7 separate regions of the Homo sapiens genome follow, and all the other regions are reported to be linked to region 1. The links are microRNA targets in miRTarBase. Many come from high-throughput screens and were not tested one by one. Region 1 holds a microRNA gene; each other region holds the end of a gene's coding sequence.

Region 1 (3,119 bases):
TATTTTTCAAATTTATTAATAAAATTTCTTTGATTTTTAAAGCATGTATTGACCCTGATGATCACTCTACAATAGCTGTTATGGGAATAACATTTAATTTTGCCATGCAAAACTACCGATGATGTATTTTAAATAGTAAGAAGCATCAAAAGTCGCATTAGATAGTTTTAATTGAAAAGAAAAAAAACTCACTTAAAAATATTTTATGTACCAGCTCAACATAACACATGTACATCATCACTGAAATTTTACTTTGCCACTTAACATTTTCTGTGATTTATCTAATGAAATTAGCTAATGTGATTTTATTATTGCAATTTCTGCTATAAATCTTACAGGAGCTTTGTGGTTTTTTTTCTTTTTACTTGGAAAAAGATCAAAATGCTTGCAGACTTCAGATTGCTATTAGATGTAATAATTATACACTAAACTAATTACCATTAACCAAAACCTGACTTACAACTAATTAAATTTTATTACATCATCATAGAGTGTAGGCTTTCAATTTAACACAGGGCACAACTATAAACACAAGAGTCTATCAGCGTGTATATTTATTTCAAGTAAAAGGCGTAGATCAGATTTATAAAGTTTGAATTTGGCAGGGTTTGTAAACCAATTTGTCAATTTCACAAATCTGCTAATTTGCCAACTTCTAAGGAGAAAGAAAGGTGCTACTTGCAAAGCAAATACACTGGATTACACCATAATAGTTTAGACAATAGCTAAATGCATATTATACAAATATAACTACGTTATAGAAGAAAGTATGAAATGCAATGAAAAAATCATTTATTTTCAGTTCAGAGGTACATTCTATTTGTGACATCACTTATCTGACATTACCGACATACAAATTGCCAAGCCCTAGTTTCTTCTGTGCAAAACAAGTAACAACATGTATGCTATCTTAAAGGAATGAAAGACATATGAAACACAGAATCCTTAGCTGACATGAAAGTGCCAATTTGTTTACTGTTCAAGGAACCAATGAAGATCAAATGGCAAAATCAGTTGCGATCTAGTATGCATCTCAAAACAGTGGCAGAATCTCCATTCATTCTTCAATGAAAGTACACTTAAATTTGTCATTCACAACAATCGGAAACTATAAGCGATTCACTTTATAAACTTTAATTTTATAAAAAATGTTTACTTTCTACCAGATGGTAAGATTAAATTACAAAAACACTGTCAGCAAGTTGAATCCTCAGATGTATTCATTCCCACCACAGAAGCTTCAAAACCTGTCTATAATTTTGTTACTGATGTTTAGAAACAGCTGTAGCTGACATAGCTACATGTTATATATGTCAGCTTTAAAGGATTAAATATTCTTAACCCCCACAGGAGAGGTCTTTTGCTGTTAACAAACGCCAATGTAAATTACACCGGAAGTTATTACTGTAGTAGAGATATCTCACACTACATTATTTGGTAAACAAAATGGTCAAGAGTCACACGTTTCTCATTATTACTGGAAATTCTGTTTGACTTGGGCAAAAGAAAGATTTTAAATTCACAGCACTTTCTGATAATAAATATAAGATAAATTCTCCTCTAAAAAGCTCCTCACATATATCTTCATTCATATTTTAGGTGGTAGTAAATTATATATTTTTCTCTTCAGAAGAATTCAATCCATCTCAGGAGACTTCTTTTCCTCGTGCAGATTTTTACTTGAATTTTTGGGAGAATCCTGCTGTCTCTCCCATTAGAGTTGAAAAGTATCTTTACAATAAACATTCAAAACTAATGGTAGAAACAGCAGGATCTTCTGAAATGCTATACCCCAAATTTTGTACTCAGTTAAGCTATCTAAAGGAACAGAACCAACCTGACTCGCCAGACTGCAGGCTTCAAAAATCACTTGGTTTATGAATTAATCTCATTAATTTTCAAGAACCACAGATTAATAGTGGTCAAATGTACAGATCTTAGAAGATGGCATTCATTCACACCCACGTGTGTGTGTGTGTGTGTGTGTGTGTGTGTATGGCATGATTATATGACATATATCTGTCCATATACGTTTTCCCTCATATAGCTGTCACTTTTAAACATCAGTCACTTTGGACCATGTGAATGATTTTTTTAAGCCTGTAAGTATACATATAAACAAATATTCTAAAAAATTGGGCAAATACAATTAATTGTATACAGTGTGTTATTTTTTCAGAACATATACATGAATTTTTTTCAGAAGATATAAATGAAAAATGGCCAACATAAATGAAGAGATAAAATGGGCTAACTGTTGAGCAGCACTAAGAGATATCCACTTAGAGAAGAAAATTCAACACAAATTTCCAAAATTAATGCAATTATCCATACCTATAATTCATGTTCATTTAAAGTTACATCTTAAACTTTTATATACAGTATAATAATTTTATGCAAATGACTATGGTGGGGATAAGTCTCAATACTATATTAACAACAGAGACTTTTAGAGATGCTGAAAGAAACCTGTAAGGTGAAGTTTTTCATTTCTTTTAACAGAAGCTAATAGAAGTATCAGCAGCGGTTTCATAGAGATCCAGGAGCTTAACACAAAGCCTGGGTGAAAAAGAAATAAGTCAATAATTGGAGAAAACGAAGGCTAGTTTCCCAGAGAGAAGAAAATACATATGTGGGCTGGGCACGGTGGCTCATGCCTGTAATCCCAACACTTTTGGAGGCCAAGGCAAGAGGATTGCTTGAGCCCAGGTGTTTGAGATCAGCCTGGGCAACATAGTGAGACCCAGTCCCTATAAAAAATAGAAAAATTATCCAGGCGTGGTAGCACATGCCTGTAGTCCCAGCTACTCGGGAGGCTGAGGTGGGAGAATTGTTTGAGCCCCAGAGATGGAAGCTGCTGTGACCCGTGATTGCACCACTGCACTCCGGCCTGGGTGTTGCAGTGAGACCCTGTCTCGAAAAAAAAAAAAGAAAAGAAAATATATATGTGATTAAAAGTGAAGAGTAGAGTGAACATAGCTTTGGGGTCTAGTCCCTTTAGTTTATAACTACATGTAACTCACCTAGCTCTAATCGAGAGGTGTGACGGGATGAACAGAAATTCAAGTTTGTCCTTTTTACTAAATATCGTTATAATAATATCCAAATTTAATGCAGTG
Region 2 (3,119 bases), not on the chromosome of region 1:
GCAAACCACTCAAAATAAACATTCTCATAAAGCACTAAACATTTCTGAAGTCTGGCTGGGAACTTTCAGAAAAGAACAGAGATCACAATTCCTCAGATCTACATACCCATTTCCTTCTCCCCCTACCAAACACACACACTTAGCAAAGAATGTGCATTGATTATGAGACAAGGACTGAAGAAGCAAGAACTCACTCTGCAAATAAAAGAAAAAAAGCAAAGCAAACCCTTTACACTTACTCCACCCTAAAGCAACTACTAATTATGTTGTGCTTTGATCTTTTCAGCCATGTTCACTCACATATATTACTGTCAATATCTTTGGGGGAAAAAAAAACATGTAAGCAGTAAACATTTTAAGGACCTTTCACAAACCAAATGACAGCAGGTTTTTATTAACATATCTTACAATGTTGATTATTCCTAGTTTTGTAATTTCTGCTTAATTATAAAGATCAATTTAGCTTCTACAGTAATGTACTGTATTTAAATGATCATTCATACAAGATATCACACCAGTACATTTTTTTGAATAATATACACACATCACTCTAACTTGGACCTGTTATTTTTAAAAGTGGGTTTATAAATGGGACTTATAAAAGTTATGGGGAAAAATTAAAGTTCTAGTTTAGCAGCATGCATGTATGTATTCAAGTACAATTTTCAACCAAGTGCTTTTTTAAAATTTACTGGTGACTAATTCACCAATATCAAAATAAACACTATCAAACACCCAAATTTTAAAGTTAAGGCTAATATTTTCACTTCACATCCATATGCACAACCATAAAACATTCCATTTTAAATAAGTAGTAATCAAAGTCTGAATACATTATACCATGTATATATAGCATCAGAGTTTCAAACTGTAGAATTATTCAAGTTCATGAATCCTGTAACAGTATTTACTAGAGATGTCAATTAGCATTTTGCTCTTCAACCACACTTACAAATGGTCTGGTATTCATAACGATCAATGCAAAAAGTATGACAGGCTGAACTTATGATACAGTATTTAAAAAAGTAGCAATGTGTTGGAAAGGACAGCTATTTAGTCGAACAGAATCATTGACTCTTACAGAAAGTTATCTTAATATTTTGGAAATGTATATAAAAATAGCAAGCTATTTCCATGTATTTTATTGTAGAACGATAGGTAATCTTTTGACTTTCTGAATACATTTGAATATGTACTGCTCTGCTTTCCATATTTTAATGCAAGGCCATGATTTAATGTCCATTTTTATACTCTTGTAATGTCATGTCATTACAAAAATTTTTTAGAACATGGATCTGACATATTTTATCATTAGATTTGTTTAGTTTATTTTTACATGTAAAAATGTAATTTTATATAACAAGCCATGGAAGTCCAAAGTACCAGGGATTGCTTGATAGCACTATATATTAAATAATCATTCAATTACTGAATCATTTAGGAAAAAAAATCTTTGTAGCAATATGTCACATGCTTTTCAGTAATCTTCCTTCTCATAGAGTGGGTTTTAGCTCAATCATTCCCATTTTTACTGATTTTTAAACCCTGCAAACATAAATTGTTTTTCACAGCAGTTTCTAAGAAGAATGCAGAAGCGTGGCTCATTCATGAGGGTCATCACCACTGCGCCTTTTTTTTCCTTTTAGGAAACCGAGCAGAAATAGTAGTGATTACACTGCACAAATACAATATAGCTGAACCTCTTGAGCTGAAAGGAAGTTCCAAAATTTATGGTTCATTTCTGGGGAAGTCTGAGCATTTCTAATACAATCATATAAACAAAACCTTGTTTGGTAATAAAAGGTGGGCATGCACGGAATCAACATCTGCCCAGTGTATGTTCTTAAACCTCTTGATTTCATAGTAAGATTTGTTATTACCTCTAGTAATTCATCCAACTGAAATGGCAAATTTTGATTTTTAAGGACCCCCCAACCACACATATGCCCCCCAAAATGTACTGTATTATATTAACAGCAGCTATCTACTTATTTTACAGCTATTTCAATTATTTACCTGGGGAGAAGATTTATGAAATTCCTGAGAATGAATTCAGTTTTCAGCAAAGCTTTAAACTTTTAACAGATTCCTCACAATAAGAAAAAATTTTAAAGTTCTACTATTAGACCAACTTTTACTATACAGTATTTCACATAAATCATGTTTTACATTTTTTTCTAATTACATACAGAAAAATTCTCCAATCAACACAAGAATGGCAGAGGAAAAAAGATGCATTATGCTTGGCAGATGCAAATTAAAACACACAGACAGAAAGAAGCAGTAAAATGTCAAATAAATCACACCCACTCTAAGTATCAATGAATAGCTGATACGCATTGTTGGGAGAATCATTTCTGAATGAGTTTGTGAACAAGTTGTGCTTCTTATTAATTGTGCACTTAAAAAATGACCACTAAAGAATAATTTAACTTGTTATTAATGTTCTCCAGATATTAAAAAAAAAAAATTATACCATTAACGTGATTACCAAGCACCTAATTTTGGAAAGGCTTCATAATGTATGTTTTCTTTTTCTCCCTCAGCAAAAGTGTTAATCCCCCAAATTAAGTTAAAGCTTATTGTTGAAAAATAAATTCGTAGCGAAAATGATGATACGATGCAATGCTGAGGTGGAGAGTCACAGCCCATTGTAATGTGGACCCCATCTTTTATTGATGTGATCAAAAGTATGAGAAATCCACTGTTGCTCAAGAACTTTGTATCTTTCCTTACAAATGTAGAGAGGTTTGCCTCGCCTAGAACAAAAAGAAAAAAAAAGTATTAATATCATACACGGAAGATTTCACATGCATTTCTTTCTTCTTTTTTTTCTGAGACAGTCTCTCGCAGTGCAACCTCCGCCTCCTGGGTTCAAGCAATTCTCCTGTCTCAGCCTCTCGAGTAGCTGGGATTACAGGTGCTCACCACCATGCCTGCCTCCTTTTTTTATTTTTTTATTTTTTATTTACTTATTTCTTTTTTGAGACGGAGTCCCACTCTGTCACCCAGGCTGGAGTGCAGTGGCACGATCTTGGCTCACTGCAAGCTCCGCCTCCCGAGTTCATGCCATTCTCCTGCCTCAGCCTCTAGAGTAGCTGGGACTATAGGGGCCCGCC
Region 3 (3,119 bases), not on the chromosome of region 1:
GGGAAGAGCTTTAGCCGGGCCTCAAGTATTTTGAATCATAAGAGACTCCATGGTGATGAAAAGCCATTCAAATGTGAAGAGTGTGGGAAGAGATTTACTGAGAATTCACAGCTTCATTCCCATCAGAGGGTTCACACTGGGGAAAAGCCATACAAATGTGAGAAGTGTGGAAAGAGCTTCAGATGGGCCTCAACTCATCTAACCCATCAGAGACTCCACAGTAGAGAAAAACTACTTCAATGTGAGGACTGTGGGAAGAGCATTGTGCACAGTTCATGCCTTAAAGACCAACAAAGAGACCAAAGTGGAGAGAAAACATCTAAATGTGAGGACTGTGGGAAGCGCTACAAGAGGCGCTTGAATCTTGATACGCTTTTGTCATTATTTTTAAATGACACATAACTGTTGTACTCATTTATGGGGTACAGTGTGATAGTTAATGCAAGTATACAATGTGTAATGATCAAATCAGTGTAATTAACATACCTATCACCTCAAACATTTATCATTTATTTATGTTGGGAACCCTTAAAATTCACTGTCCTAGCTATTTGAAAATAATACGTTGTTAATTACTGTCACCCTGTAGTGGTGTAAAACACTAGAACTTATTCCTCCTACCTGCCTGTATTTCTGTATTCATTAACCAACCTTTGGCTACCACCCTGCCTCCTCACCTCTAAGAACTACTATTCTACTCTCTACTTCTATGAAGTTAACTTTTTGAGCTTCCACATATGTGTGAGAACATGTGGTATGTATCTTTCTGTGCCTGGCATATATCACTTAATATAATGCCCTGTAAGTCTCATTCACTTTGCTGTGAGTGATAGAATTTTGTTGTTTTTCATGGCTAAATAGTACTCTGATGTGTATATTTGCCCCATTTTCTTTATTCATTCATCCAGTGGACACTTAGGTTGATTACATACCTTGGCCTATTTCTTGGCTATCGTGAATGGTGCTGCAATAAACATGGGGGGGTGGAGATAACACTTTAACATACTGATTTCCTTTTCTTTGGATATGTACCAAGTATCATATAATAGTATGACATGACTCAAAATTAAGGAATAAGATTGTGGAAATTGGTTTTCAAAAAAAAATTCTCTAGTTTGAATATAGAGAAAAATTGGTGAGTGTCTTCAGCTGTCCTCATACATAATGCATGTGAGCTCGCTTTAAGCATAAGTGAAGGAGTGGAAAAATCCTGGAGATAGAAATCAAGGGGTATACATGTGGATGTAAAAAATCAACAAAGATTCTTTTAAGAAAAGGTGTGTATGGGTAGGGAACAATAGCATGACAGCAGTGCGGCCTCTAACAGTCTGGAACCAGTTAGGACAAAGAGCAGGATTGAGCGCCATTCCATTCATAGACACCGTGGTGATATTTTGAGTACATTAGGTTAAAAGGCTTTCTTCAGCAAAATCTATCTCTAGAGATAGATTTGATTTTTATAATCAAATCTACTAGAGATAGATTTGATTTTTATAATCAAATCTACCAGAGATAGATTTGATTTTTATAATCAAATCTACTAGAGATAGATTTGATTTTTATAATCAAATCTACTAGAGATAGATTTGATTTTTATACTTAATGTTCTAGACTGTATCTTTTCAGGATGCTAGGTACTTTATGAAGATCCATGCTGTCTCAATTTGCATAGTGGGTTGGAGGTCCCTAAGACAATCTCTCCAGATTCTATGATTTGCTAAGAGGACTCAGAATATAGTTGTACTCATGACTATATTATAGTGACAGGATACAAATAATCAGCAAAGGGAAAAGGTTCTTGTATAATATCTGGAGGGAATCAGATGTAAATTTGTAAAGATCCTTTGTGCATGGAGTAACAGGTCTCAATTCCTCCAGTATTGAATTGTGACTGTACTTGTGAAATGTCTACAATGGAAATTAATTATCAACCCGTACCAAAGGTTCTTATTGGAACTAATCATGTAGGTACCATCCCTCTGGTACATATCAAGATTCTAGACTCCAAGAAGGGGAGCAAGTGTTCAGAATAACTTGAACCATGCCTACCAGTTATGGAATGGTGGCAACCCTCTCAAACTCCGTGTTTCCTAACACCAGCTAAAGGCCAGTCTTATAAGCAGTCCTTTCTAAGATTTGCAGTCTCAGGCCTGTTATATTAACTTTTTGTGCACATAGTACTAGAAAACTGTTGGCTCAGTCTTCTTTTTGTTTTGTGTGTTTTGGTTTTTAACTGTCACCGATACCAGAATAGCTCATCTCCAAGGTAACTGTAACAGAACACTCAGCAGATTAAACAGAAAATACTTGCTTATTATAATTATTAAAAGTTTGGTAGGGTCTATGTCTGCTCTCTGGTGTGTCCTGGATCATCAACTTGGTTACAACATGGTGTTAACATGTGGGACTGATTGTGTTTCTTGTTAATATTTCTGTTTCTCCCAACCACGCTGAATATTAAATACCTAGTTCTATATCTAGTACCCTGAGCTTATGTGGGGCTAATATTCTTTGCCATTTTTCACCACAGATTTGATTTCCTTTTTCTTTTGTGGACACTGGTGAGTTCCCTAATATAACTTTGACTTGGTTATATTTTCACAATCGGTGGGGATTATTACAGATTATCATCCTTCCTCTGCATTTGAAAAAGGAGGGAGGCTTCAAGTCAGGTTAGTTGACCTTCCTTTGTTGGTCTTATTATCCATAACATAATAAATAAATTGATGAGGATGGGCATGGTGGCTCACGCTTGTAATTCCAGCATTTAGGGAGGCTGAGGCGGCGTTTTAGACCAGCCTAGCCAATGTGGTGAAACCTCATCTCTACTAAAAATACAAAAAATATGCCAGGTGTGGTGGTGTGCGCCTGCAATCCTAGCTACTCAGGAGGCTGAGGCAGGAGAATCGCTTGAGCCTAGGAGGCGGAAGTTTGCAGTGAGCCAGAATCGTGCCACTGTACTCCTGCCTGGGTGATACAGTGAGTCTCCATCTCAAAAAAATAAGTTTATGAGAAGTCTATTAAATTGTTACATAATCTATATAGGTAGAAGGTTTCTATTTCAAGTGAACCAAAGTGTAACTTGAATCGTCTAATGCAGACTCACAGCCCAAAAATAA
Region 4 (3,119 bases), not on the chromosome of region 1:
TAATACGTTAAACAAATGACCAGGCTATATTCCAATAAAACTTTAGTTACAAAAATATGCACCTGAAAAAAAAAATACGCACCTGGCTAGCTTTAGTTTGCCAACTGTGTGCTAAAACATGGATAAGGGGCTGTAGATTAAAATGTGGAAGCCATTTATATATTTTCAATCATGCTAAATTATATCCCCTGTTGATTTTATTGTAGTAATCATTTTTCTCTCTCTCCTTTTTCAAAATTTTAAAATGTCAGCAGTGATGTACCAAATGGATCAGCCTTGACACAAGAGAATATCAGCCTCCTATCAAACAAGACCAGCTCTCTGAACCTGTCAGAGGACCCTGAGGGAGGAGGGGATAATAATGACTCCCAGAGATCAGGAGTTACTCCCAGTTCTGCTCCTTAAAATATGAGGAGTCCTACTTTTATCTTCTGCTCCTAATCAGTTTGTCGGGCATAGGGGTAGGAGAACGCATAACTTCTAAACTTTTTCTCTTAAGAGCGGTCAGAGAAATCCAGGAAATTCACCAGAGGCAATGTGCACAAACACCACTACTAAAAACAAACCCTGCACATAGTTCACATTAATGCATTTTTTTAATTTAAAGAAAAAGAAAATTAGCAGTATCTGCAAGCAATTCAGATTAAATTTGTTTTTGTTCTGTGAATGAACTTTATTTTAATAACTTTGGACGCCTTGGATCCAGGGCTTTAAAAAAAAAAGATATTATATATACACTCTGTTTGATTAATTGTATGATCTTAATGAAGTAGGTTTTCTTGTATTTTGGTATTACATACCCAGTGTATAATTTGTATAATTCCTCACCCCCAATCCTTATCAATTCTCACCACCCCATAAACTTAAAACAGACCAAAAATGTCAGCTTTCAGAGAATTCTGTGGTGCTTGAGAAACAGACAGTACTAGACTGAGTTATTAGAAAATGTGCAGCAAACCAACTTTTCCCAGAGCTGTTATTTGGAATTCTTTATCCCTTTCTAGATCACTAGCTTCATTGGATACGTATATTTTTCTTGACATTGAAGCTTTTTGTTTGTTTGGGAGGGTTTTATTTCTTGTTTTTATTTTCAACTTTTCAAATAGAATTACCAATTTTGAAGTCCTCATTTTCATATTAAGGATCATTTGCATTCTCTTAATATAATCAGAAAGCTGATTCAGTGTTTAATTAGATTTAAATGTTGATCAAGAATTAACTGTAACTTACTAGCACTGAAAATACATGTTTGGTGTTTCGCCTGCGTTCAGCTCATGGTTGGAAATTTGAAGCAGTGCTTTTCAAATTAAACTTTTGCTGACATCATAGGATGCTAAAAAACAAGGACAATCAACTATGTTTTAAAACTGCAACATTTGATTTGAACTTAAAATGAATAGAGCCACATTATTTTAATGGATGTTTTGTTTTACTTGTGAACTGATTGAGTCTTAAGGATAGTTTATGAATTGATCACTTGTTGCTCAGAATCATTAGTATAAGTAGGTAGGAAATAGTTTGAAGTCATTTTTCATAGACTTAACTGTCCAATGTTGCAAATGTTTCTTCATGAAAATATTGAAAAGAGTAAGGTTTTTTTTTTTTTTAATTCTGCTGCACATATTCTGATGCCATGTGTCTGTGCTTAATTAACTAAGACCCTATAAAACGTGTTTAGTGGGGACTGTTTGATATAGTTGCCCTCTCCATTCCTCTATTTGCCTGATTTTTTTCAGTTTCCCTTTCTGTATTTTACTACTAAATTAGAAAGCACTGGTTATGTAATAAGTTACTACATTGCTTTGGTTGAGTAAAAACAAGAGTTTATATTTTTCTTGTTTCTTATTTTCTTAACCCTTAACTCCTGCTGAGGTCATAACAACCTCAGTCTAAGCTCTGTGTCCATCATACTGTTAACTTAAACAAATGGGTGGTGGGGGTGGGAAGGGTAATACAGTCCTGCCATTGCCTACCAGTAGGAGAGTCCAAACAGAACACTCTTTTGAGTAGCAATTATTTAATTTGCCCAGTCAAGGCACCGTGTTTATATACTATTTCACATTGAATTTGATTATGCCCTACAGACCTGGCTGGTCAAGGATTTGATATACACATATTGGCTTGGGATTCGAGCTTTCTTTTTTATTTAAATAAAAATTTATATATATATTATATATATACATATATACATAGCTATATCTGTATATATATTGGGTATGTTTTAAGGATTTTTTCGCATGAGCGCAGCTGTTGCGATAAATTGACCGATTGGGAGGTGGTAGAAGCACTGAATGAAGGTGAGGCTTTTTTTTTTTCCAGTTTTCTTATACATTTGTCTTCTTTTTTTAAAAAAAAAAAAAAAAATATATATATATATATATATATATATATATATGTATGCTTTTTCTTTTTTTTTTGGCTTTTGTTTGCTTTTTGACTTTTACTTAAAACCCTTTTACATTTCCACTTTAAATGCCTATTGTTTATTGGGAGAAGGAAAGAAACTTTTGTATGTCTGACAGAGTCCCAAGATTTTTCATTTCTCTGCATAACAGTAAAAGGCAACATTATTGGCCTCCAACCTTCTTTTTTTTTTTTTTTTTTTTTTTTTGGAGAGGGAGTCTGCTTCTGTTGCCCAGGCTGGAGTGCAGTGGGTTGATCTCGGCTCGCTACAACCTCCACCTCCCGGGTTCAAGCGATTCTCCTGCCTCAGCCTCCTGAGTAGCTGGGACTACAGGCACGCGCCACCACGTCCAGCTAATTTTTGTACTACAACCTTCTTATAAGCAGATTTGGACTGATCTTCTCCTTTGGGTATGTCAGATCATCCTAAATTTTAGAAGCAGTTGATTCACTTTGGAATTCAGAATGATTCTTGTATTAGAAGATAATTTGTGGGTATTAATTTTTGTTTAAGTTTAAAATAAAAGTAAAGATTCATTTTGGATATCAGTTGAAACCCCTTAGTAACTCAGTTTCTGTTATTCTTGTTCTCATTTCCTTTAAATACACTTGTTCTTGGCTTTTGCCATTTTGATTCTGTGAAGTAGGCAGGAGCAGGGATTAATTTATACAGTATTCCTGTTCTGAACAAAACCAGAAAAGTCACTGTATAAACT
Region 5 (3,000 bases), not on the chromosome of region 1:
AAAAGCAGTAGGAGATGAGGTCAGAGAGAGTGAAGAGCAAGATCCTGTAGCATCCTGTAGAATATTGGAAAAGCTCTAGCCTTTACTCCAACCACAAGGGGAAGATAGTATATGATTTGGGGAAAAGAAGTGACAAATATGACACACATTTTTAAAAGATCACAATAGCTGTTATGGTGAGAATAGACTATAGGATGGCAAGGGTGAGTGCAGGGAGGCCAGTCAGGAGGCTATTGGAGTAATCCAAGTGAGAAATGATGGTGGCTTGGACCAGGGTGGTAGGAGTAGAATACTGAGAAGCAGTCAGATTGTTGGGTGCATTTTAATGTAAAAGCAGGATTTAACAAGGCTTTACATATTTGAGGAGCCTCTGTCTAGGGTGATATGGTTTGGCTCTGTCTCCACCCAAAGTCTCGTCTTGAGTTGTCATCCTCATAATCCCCATCTGTCAAAAGTGGGACCAGGTGGAGGTAACTGGGTCATGGCGACGGTTTCCCCATGCTGTTCTCATAATAGTGAGTGAGTCTCACGAGAGCTTAGGGTTTTATAAGTGTCTGGCACCTTCCCTGCTTGCACTCACTCTGTCCTGCCATCATGTGCAGAAGGTGCCTGCTTCTCCTTTGCCTTCTGCTGTGATTGTAAGTTTCCTGAGGCCTCCCCAGCGATAAGGAACTGTGAGCCAATTAACCCTCTTTTCTTCATAAATAACCCAGTCTCAGGTATTTCTTCATAGCAGCGTGAGAACAGACTAATACATAGAGACAGACTAATACATAGAGTTTGGAAGGGTGGGTGGAAGCTCCATAGCCTCCTTAAAAATCGATGTAAACTATCCAACAGAGAAAGCTGCTACTTTTCAAATGCAAGAATTGTGCACAGTGATGCTGTGTCCCAGGAAAATGGAAGGCTCTTTAAGGGCACTCACCAAACCATCAAGGAGACTGTGGGTCATGTTTCTAATCTGCCTGGAATGACTTCTCTGAGAAGGTCACATCCTTCTGGTAACTGCACTGGGAAAATAGCAGTGCAGGAAGTCAGCAGTCTCCACTGACAATTCACCTGAAGTTTGCCTTTCTGACAACTTGTGTTCCAAAACAAAGTGAATGCTTTATTTGCTATAGAAGGAAAGGGAAGAAGACATGGAAACAAGAATACAAGTTCATTAGAAGAAGAGTATTCAGTTCTAAGAAGAGGGGCACTCACCCTACACTCCAAATCTCCCTCTCTCCTCTCCCTCACATCTTATCCATTACTACCTTCTCAAGACTTTCATCACCGAAAAGAAACAGACCCCGGATAGTTCAGTCTACACCCCAATCAATACAGCCCTGAAAAGGTAAACAGAATGTTTTGGTTATAATGTTTTATTACAAAGGTAATATATGATCATTATAGAAAAATAAAATAGGTCATCAATAATTGCATCACCTTGAAACAATCACTTTTAATTTGTTGTTAGAGGTTAGTCTATTTTAACATTTCTGAAGTCATATAGACTTACATGATTGCTCTCATGTAACCTGTAACATAAGCGTTTCTCATGTTGCTACATCTGTTAATAACAGTGGTTTGACTAATTGTATTGGCTGTGTGGATGTGGAACAGAAGATTCTTGATGTCAAGAACGGCTGAGGCACAGAAGGTGCAGTCAGTCATTTGGGACCATATTGTCTGTGGCTTTCAGGACAGGGAGCTTTGGGACTCAGGTAGATGACTCTGGAAGAGTCCTTCTCTTTTGGAACTGCAGCATCCCTTCGTCTTCCCCAAGGGGAATTTAGTCCAGGAAATACCAGATCCTCACCTCTCTAATTCTCTTCTCAAATCCCAAGGCAAAACAATGGAGACTTAATGTGGTTCTGGTAATTGGGCTCTTTGTTCTTCTGGAGCTTCCGACTGCATAAGCAGTGAATAGGTGATTTTGTTCTCAGCATGGAGAAGGCAGAAACCAGCAGTAGGGATCCACAGAGAGGGCATAGGAAAGAAGATGTTAAAGAGGCTGGACATTGGGGCTGATGCTGGTCATCCCAGCACTTTGGGAGGCCGAGGCGGGCAGATCGCTAGAGGCCAGAAGTTCGAGATCGGCCTGGCCAACATTGCGAAACCCTGTCTCTACTAAAAAAAAAAAATAAAAAATACAAAAATTAGCTGGGTATGATGGCACATGCCTCTAATCCCAGCTACTGGGAGGCTGAGGCATGAGAATCGCTTAAACCTGGGAGGCGGGTTTGCAGTGAGCCAAGATAGCACCACTGCACTCCAGCCTGGGTAACAGATTGAGACTCTGTCAAAAAAAAAAAAGATGTTAAAGGAAAAATCTGAGGCGCAATTCATGAAGTTTAGTGTTCCAGTGGCAAAATGTCACAGGCAAGTATTTATTGGGAAAATGTGGAAGCAAAATAAAGGCAATCGGTTGGTTTTCAATTACATAATTGTTTTTTGGGGGTAGGTATCTTCTTAGAAAGTCCCTAGTCACCTAATTATATGTTAGTAGGCTGCTTGTGATTGGCTGGGGTTGTCTTATTTCTAACATAAGCATTTACCAGAAATGATCCAAGTTAAGTTTTGCTTATGCTTGTATGTAGTATGACCCCGTGAAGTTTTGCTTGTGTTTGTAGTTTAAGCAAAGTTAAAGCTATTTCTAAGGGCCAGGTGGTTTTGTTTGCTCAGGATTTTTCCAGTCTCCATTTAAATTTTCCTTTAACAATTCCCCTCTTTTTGTCATCCACTCAGCAAGCTGAGAGTATGACCACATGGCATAACGTTACTCTTTAGTTATTACTGTTGACATGGTCGTTGGGAGGAAGAGTCAGGTAGATGTTTTTATCATCGTCAGTAGGTGCCCTGGGGTTCAGAGTCATGTAGCCGCCGTCAGCTGTTTCATAGTCATTGTTGGTTTCTTCAAGTTGTCTCTTTCTGATGGCAATCATTTGACGTCCAGGTGGCTGCAGGAAAGCATTTAAAACCCATAGGATAATTCAATACACCGGGGAGGTAAATACA
Region 6 (3,000 bases), not on the chromosome of region 1:
ACCACTCCCTGACTTGTTACTGCATTATTGCTATCACAGAAACCAATCAACAATTACTTGTTTTTATAGTTTGTATAAGGTAAAGCATAATAAAATGCAGTGCTTAAGTAGCCAGCTTCATCCAAGTAAGTAAAAATGGTATATCATCCATTTTTTCCCCATATTTAGAGGAAAGACTATTAATTAAATATTTGGGAATTTGATTTTGGAGAAACGCCTTCAGCACTATTTAATTACTACAGAAGCTAAGATGTAATAGGATTCAGTTTAACTTTTAACAGTCTGGAGAGACCAGCCTACATGCTCTTTTGGCAAGATCAGTAGTTCTTGGCATCACCCAATACCAGGCATCAGAGCCTTCTTGACACTGAGTGTCAGCCTCAAAGCACGCTTGGTGGACTGAGAGCATGGTTGGGTAGGAAGATCAAGGAGCAAGGATAAGAACAACCAGGCAGAAGTAAGGCAGAGATTACTGGAAAGAGGAGAAAGGAGAAAAGGGGAGAAGGGAAGAGGCAGCTTGATAGAGAAAGAACGGGAGTGGAAACAGAGGAGAGAGCTATGTATGGCTTGAATGTGTCCCTCCAAGGTCATGTGTTGGAAACTTAATCCTCAATGCAATGTTGAGAGGTGGGACTTTTAAGAGGTGATTAGGTCATGAAGGTTCTGCCTTCATGAATAGATTAGTGCTGTTATCATGGGAGTTGGCTAGTTGTCTTGGGAGAGGGTTCCTGATAAAAAAGATGAGTTCAGTCCTCTTCCCTCTTCTTTCTCTTGCCCTCTTGCCTTGTACCATGGGATGATACAGCAGGAAGGCCCTAGTGAGATGCAGGCCCCTCGACCTTGGAATCTCCAGCCTTCAGAATGGTAAGAAACTCATCTCTGTTCTTCATAAATTACCCAGTCTAAGGTATTCTATGACAGCAGCACAAAATGGACTAAGACACAGAAGAAGAAGAGGAAGAGAAAAGCAGTTGAGAGGACAAGTGAAGACAAAGTTATTGAAAGATGAGATTCATTATCAGAGGAAATATGGGAAATATAGAATGAGTGTTTAAGAAAAAAAACAGGAAGGTATCTCAGCTACAACACTTTGTAGGCATGCAGATATTTTATTGCTGAAAATTTACATTTCTACATTTGAAGAAAAAATTCTCTGACCTATGACCTGTGGCCAAGTCTGAGTAGCCTGTGCTTTCGTTTGTCCACGTGGTGAAGTCCCACAGCCTCCCCTGACACTCAGGGAGAATCCTCTTGTGAATCAAATACAAAAGCAAACGTTTGTTTTGTATTTTCATTTATGGCTGCCTTAACTTATACAAGAAATAGGCAAAAAGTCTTAATCACATTGCTTTGAGCGTATGTAACATCTTTAAAGACTGTTAATTGATGTCATACTCCTTAATCTTTAAAAATATCACCCTGAGGAGGAGATTTGTAGTTTTACCCCCATTCTACAAAAATAAAAATAAAAGATTAAATCATATACACAAAGTCTAGAAGAGGAATGATTAGCTTTAGTTGTCTTGTTTTAATCAAGCATGAGAAAACTAAGCTAATTCCATACATTGGGACTGATGAAAATGTGTAAAGTAAGTTGGTCCACATTACAAGTAGGTTCAATTTGGCCAAAAGACACTATGTTTCAAACTTAATCCCCTGAGTGCAAAACTGTAAGGATTATGCTCCAGTTAGCCTTTTAGTTCTGTTTCTTTCATTTCAAGATTCCTTTTGCCCTAAATAGTAGCCTATACTTGCTATTGTCTTTTGACATCATTGTTTTCACTCGTACGCTTAGGCTGAAAGGGTGTCCATCCCACTGGTGAATACACAATTAAGAGCTTCAGAGCAGAGCCTTCATCTCCACTATGGCCTCCACCACAGCAAGCCTAAGTGCACTTCCATGGATCCTACAATCATTTGTCTTTTTGTGACACCATAAAGTTTAGTAACCAGCAACACGTGGTTCAATGCAGGATGTACTGTGGGAGAGAGAAATGGGCAGGAGAAGACACACTTCTTGCCTTTAGGGCTCGTTAAATTGTCTCCTCTTTCTTTTTCAACTTGCTTTTCTTTGGCTCCACTGTCTTCTAGTGAATATACTTTTTGAGTTTCTGTCTTTTTATATTGTCATGTTATCTTCTCATTAGTCTTTTCAATCTTCAATGTTGAACTAAATAAACCCTAGGGCCTGGAAAAACTGTTATTTCCCTCAGCAAAGAATGTGCTCCTCATTAATGCCATTGATTTTTATATTCCACTGGCCTTCGCAACAAAATAAGCAAGACTATCTTAGGTGAATTTGTTTTTACGTGACATTTAAAGTAAATTCTGTGGGATTATAACCCAACATGAAGTGACATCTTTCCCAGAAATACAGCAGCATTGGCAAAATTGTCAGCAATCACCCACCCTCAGGGCCAAACATGACAATATGAGAAGAATGGCACTCTGAGTAATAAATGTGACTGAAATACAAATAAAATGTGTGGTTTTCCAGACTCACAAAGTATTGGAAGACAAAACTGTGAACAAACTACATTATAATATGCAAGAGGAGTGCTGAAAGATAGCCACAAGCTATGTGTTTCTCCTTAGCCACGCAGCTATCCTGGCACTTAGCTTCTTGTTTTTCAGATTTTCATTCTTTATTGTCTGTAAGTTGGCATGAACTCTGATCCTCTGGTGTTCCTCCAACATGTTACTGAAAAACTGCTGCAGCTGGAAGGACAGAGAGACAGATGATCAGTGCAATCCAACTTCCCATTTGGACAAAGTAAATGTCTAAATGCTAAGTAGCAACATGAGTTTGTAAATTGGTGATGATGGTTGGAATGAGTAGAAATGTATACTCCTAGGTTGTGTGTCCCTGGGGAGACTGTGACTGAGACAATGTGATGAACACCACACCTACCCCAAAGAAGCAGATGTAGACAGGAAGGTGCATGAAGCAGAAACTATGCCTTATTCCCAAAGCACATATTGAGTCTCAATGAATATTTA
Region 7 (3,111 bases), not on the chromosome of region 1:
TATTGGAGTGCTGCTGGCTATTGGCCCTTGATAGGCTTCCCTGGAACTCCCACCCAGCAAGAGCCAGCTCTCCACCGAGTGGGGGTTTACCTGGATCGTGGGACTGGGAATGTCTCCTTCTACAGCGCTGTGGACGGAGTGCACCTGCACACCTTTTCTTGTTCTTCTGTCTCACGCCTCCGGCCATTTTTTTGGTTGAGTCCATTAGCATCTTTAGTCATTCCACCAGTGACTGATAGGAAATGAGGCTTTTCTTCCCCTGACCAAAACTCCTTCCCTGTAGTCCAGCTGAGGGACACACATCCCTGGGCCCTCTTCTGCCCTTCATGTCTCTATCCTGGATGGTCCATCTTCTGGGTCTCCCTAACGGTACCGTTTGGTATCTGCCCTTTGTGTGCTTCACAAGAGGCAGTCCCATGGGAGGTGGGTCTGGCCAATGGAGATGGGACAGGAAATTTTCCAAGACGCTTTTGGGAAATCTTTTTGTAGCTTTTAAAGAGATGTGCGGGGAAGACATATGGATGTTAGCAGCCATATTGGAACTGAGAACACAGGAATGGTGGAAAGGTAGAAGAAACAGAGTTTTTGTTGCCGTTGTGAAATTGTTGAAATTTCCTTCATGCCAAGCTTCTTGTTATATGAGATAATTACGCCCTTATTGTATAAGACAATTTTAGTTGTATTTGGTTACTTGCAGCCTGAAGTACCGTAACTGCACTAAAGGGACGTAGTGTGAACATCCCGCAGTATAGGCTTAAGTCACTTTTGTGAAATTTGACAAAGGCATAGAATCTTTTTCTATCCAGTCAGGCATTGCCTATTCTTTCCAGTAACTACTGATTCCCCCACTTTTCTGTCTTAGAAAATTGTGGGAATCCCCCCTCACTCTGCCTATGTTGCACTCTCTCTCTTCCCAACCATAACTCTGCCCTCAGCTATTAACTGTGCTGTGTATTTATCAAGTTGGTATGTTGTATGTACAGTGTTATTCATGTCATCATGAGAATGTTGAACGCTTGTTAAATATCTTTTGCTAGCCTCTTCATATGCTGTTGCATATGACTCTCATCACAACTCAGTGAGATGGAAAGTCAAATCCTATTTGTACAAATGAGAAAACTGAACTCTTTAGAGTAACTAGCTCAGTATTGGCCAGCTGGTAAATGGCAGTGTTGGGATTAAAATCCAGTTCTTATCTACTCTCCCTTTATTCAGAAGCATTTATTGGATGTTGATCTTTGTTTCAGGTTTTGATTTTGTTACTTTTTTATACTGTGTATATTTTCCTCAGTCTACCCTTCTGCTCTAGATTGTCTGGACTCAGGAGATTGTGGCAGTTACTGGATAGTTATTTTTAAGATAATGATTGCTTTTCTCTGTTTATATAAGTCATGTGTACTTATTGTAGAAAGTTTGTAAGATGCAAAAAGTATAAAAATTAAAGTTATGCACTACTAACATTTCAATATATTTTCTCCCAGATTTTCAGTAAAGACTTTCAGGCAGTGATTTAACGAGGATTTTATTTTAACTTATATTTTAGTTTAAGGGGAACACGTGCAGGTTTGTTCTATAGATCAATTACATGTCACAGGGGTTTGGTGTACATATTATTTCATTACCCAGGTAATAAGCATAGTACCCAATAGATACTTTTTTGATACCCCACCCTCCTCCACCCTCTACCCTCAAGTAGTCCCTGGTGTCTGTTGTTCCCTTTTTTGTGTCCATGGGTACTCAATGTTTAGCTCTCCCTTATACGTGAGAACATGTGATGTTTGGTTTTCTGTTCATGTGTTGGTTTGCTTAGGGTAATGGCCTCCAGCTCCATCCATGTTGCTGCAAAGACATGATCTCATTCTTTTTTTATGGCTGCATAGTATTCCATGGTGTATATGTACTATGTTTTCTTTATCCAGTCTACTGTTGATGGGCATTTAGGTTGATTCCATGTCTTTGCTATTGTGAATAGTGCTGCAATGAATATATACATGCATATGTCTCTATGGTTGAATGATGTCTTTGGGTATTGGGCATATACCGAATAATGGGATTGCTGGGTTGAATGGTGGTAGTGAGGATTCTTACACAACTTACAGCATCTTCCCTAACTCCTCCTCCCCTCCTCCCCTTCTTATACATCAGCCATCTTGGCTTGTCTTCCTATTCAGCCTGAGCAGCCCCCTCATTCAACAGTTTCTACTGAGTTCTCAACTTCCCAGGATATTTGCTGTTATAGGTTGAATTATGTTCCCCAAAAACATATGTTGAAGAGCTACCTGTGAAAATGACCTTATTTGGAAATAGGATATTTGCAGATGTAAACAAGATAAGGTCATTTGGGTGGGCTCTAACCCAATATGACTGGTGTCCTTATAAAAAGAAGGAAACTTATGCATATGTTCACACACTCATGCCCACACACACACAGAAAAATGCCAGATGGAAACAACGTGAAAGAGGCTCTGGAAGATGGAGGCAGAGATTGGATTGGAGTTATGCTGTCACAAGCCAAGGAACCTGGGGCTACCAGAAGCTGGGGGAAGCCAGGAAGAATCTTCCCCTAGAAGCTTTGAAGGGAGCATGGCCCCATCAACACTTTGGTTTCTGATTTCTAACTGCCAAAACTGAGGTTAGACAGTAAATTTCCATTGTTTTAAGCCACCCAGTTTGTTATGGCCACCTTAGGAAATGATGACTACACTTGCCCTTCAGGACGTCCTTCAGTGCCTGTCTTACTAATAGCTAATCCTTTGGAAACTCATCAGTACCTTCCCTCCTCTCTTCCTTCTGGCTATTGAAAGGTTGATTGATTCTGCTATAAATCCTTGCTCTCTGCCTTCAAGTGGGCCCTTTGAGCTGCATGGTAAACTTTTTTTATCACTTGACTTGTTTTAACGTCTTTGGTGGCAATGATTCCAAACTTTTCCTTTTAAGCCTTCATGAGTCCCCCTTCATACGATTGCAAAGAACTTGCATCTTCAACAGAGAAAAAATTCTTTTCCCCTACCCTTCTTATTCTTCACAATTCTTTGTCTCTGTGCTTGAGTCTTGATATTGACCCCTCTGGTCTCATCAGGTATGGGATGGGACCTAGGTGTTCATTTTTGT

Evidence for each region. The annotated mature microRNA hsa-miR-1305 reads UUUUCAACUCUAAUGGGAGAGA and lies in region 1 at 1,706-1,727, opposite strand. An mRNA with a match to its seed (bases 2 to 7 or 8) in the 3' UTR can be bound and repressed. Matches are read on the target gene's strand: a 7mer-m8 pairs with bases 2 to 8, a 7mer-A1 pairs with bases 2 to 7 and ends in A, and an 8mer does both.
Region 2: the mRNA of UBR3 is a reported target of hsa-miR-1305. Seed matches in the 3' UTR shown: 8mer at 663-670.
Region 3: the mRNA of ZNF225 is a reported target of hsa-miR-1305. Seed matches in the 3' UTR shown: 7mer-A1 at 552-558.
Region 4: the mRNA of RC3H1 is a reported target of hsa-miR-1305. Seed matches in the 3' UTR shown: 7mer-A1 at 1,579-1,585 and 7mer-m8 at 2,953-2,959.
Region 5: miRTarBase lists FCGR2A as a target of hsa-miR-1305. Seed matches in the 3' UTR shown: 7mer-A1 at 2,415-2,421.
Region 6: miRTarBase lists LVRN as a target of hsa-miR-1305. Seed matches in the 3' UTR shown: 7mer-A1 at 2,150-2,156 and 8mer at 2,054-2,061.
Region 7: miRTarBase lists TRIM4 as a target of hsa-miR-1305. Seed matches in the 3' UTR shown: 7mer-m8 at 605-611.

What each region holds. Positions count from the first base shown.
Region 1 is chr4:182,167,951-182,171,069 of GRCh38, reverse strand. It overlaps MIR1305 (microRNA 1305), which reads right to left and starts at 1,777; the gene lies at 1,692-1,777. It also overlaps a transcript of TENM3 not described here.
Region 2 is chr2:170,081,366-170,084,484 of GRCh38, reverse strand. UBR3 (ubiquitin protein ligase E3 component n-recognin 3) reads right to left here. Exons shown (of 39, transcript NM_172070.4): 39 at 354-2,759. The coding sequence ends at 2,642. Among named protein-coding and RNA genes, the nearest start is that of MYO3B, 95 kb to the left of the region's middle.
Region 3 is chr19:44,132,334-44,135,452 of GRCh38, forward strand. ZNF225 (zinc finger protein 225) reads left to right here. Exons shown (of 5, transcript NM_013362.4): 5 at 1-2,489. The coding sequence ends at 402. Among named protein-coding and RNA genes, the nearest start is that of ZNF234, 7.7 kb to the right of the region's middle.
Region 4 is chr1:173,936,007-173,939,125 of GRCh38, reverse strand. It overlaps RC3H1 (ring finger and CCCH-type domains 1), which reads left to right. Exons shown (of 20, transcript NM_172071.4): 20 at 255-3,119. The coding sequence ends at 405. Among named protein-coding and RNA genes, the nearest start is that of SERPINC1, 20 kb to the right of the region's middle.
Region 5 is chr1:161,517,917-161,520,916 of GRCh38, reverse strand. FCGR2A (Fc gamma receptor IIa) reads right to left here. Exons shown (of 7, transcript NM_001136219.3): 7 at 1,088-2,942. The coding sequence ends at 2,769. Among named protein-coding and RNA genes, the nearest start is that of TRG-GCC2-1, 4.5 kb to the left of the region's middle.
Region 6 is chr5:116,025,696-116,028,695 of GRCh38, reverse strand. LVRN (laeverin) reads right to left here. Exons shown (of 20, transcript NM_173800.5): 20 at 1,090-2,718. The coding sequence ends at 2,578. Among named protein-coding and RNA genes, the nearest start is that of ARL14EPL, 5.3 kb to the left of the region's middle.
Region 7 is chr7:99,889,298-99,892,408 of GRCh38, reverse strand. TRIM4 (tripartite motif containing 4) reads left to right here. Exons shown (of 6, transcript NM_033091.3): 6 at 1-2,006. The coding sequence ends at 246. Among named protein-coding and RNA genes, the nearest start is that of OR2AE1, 14 kb to the right of the region's middle.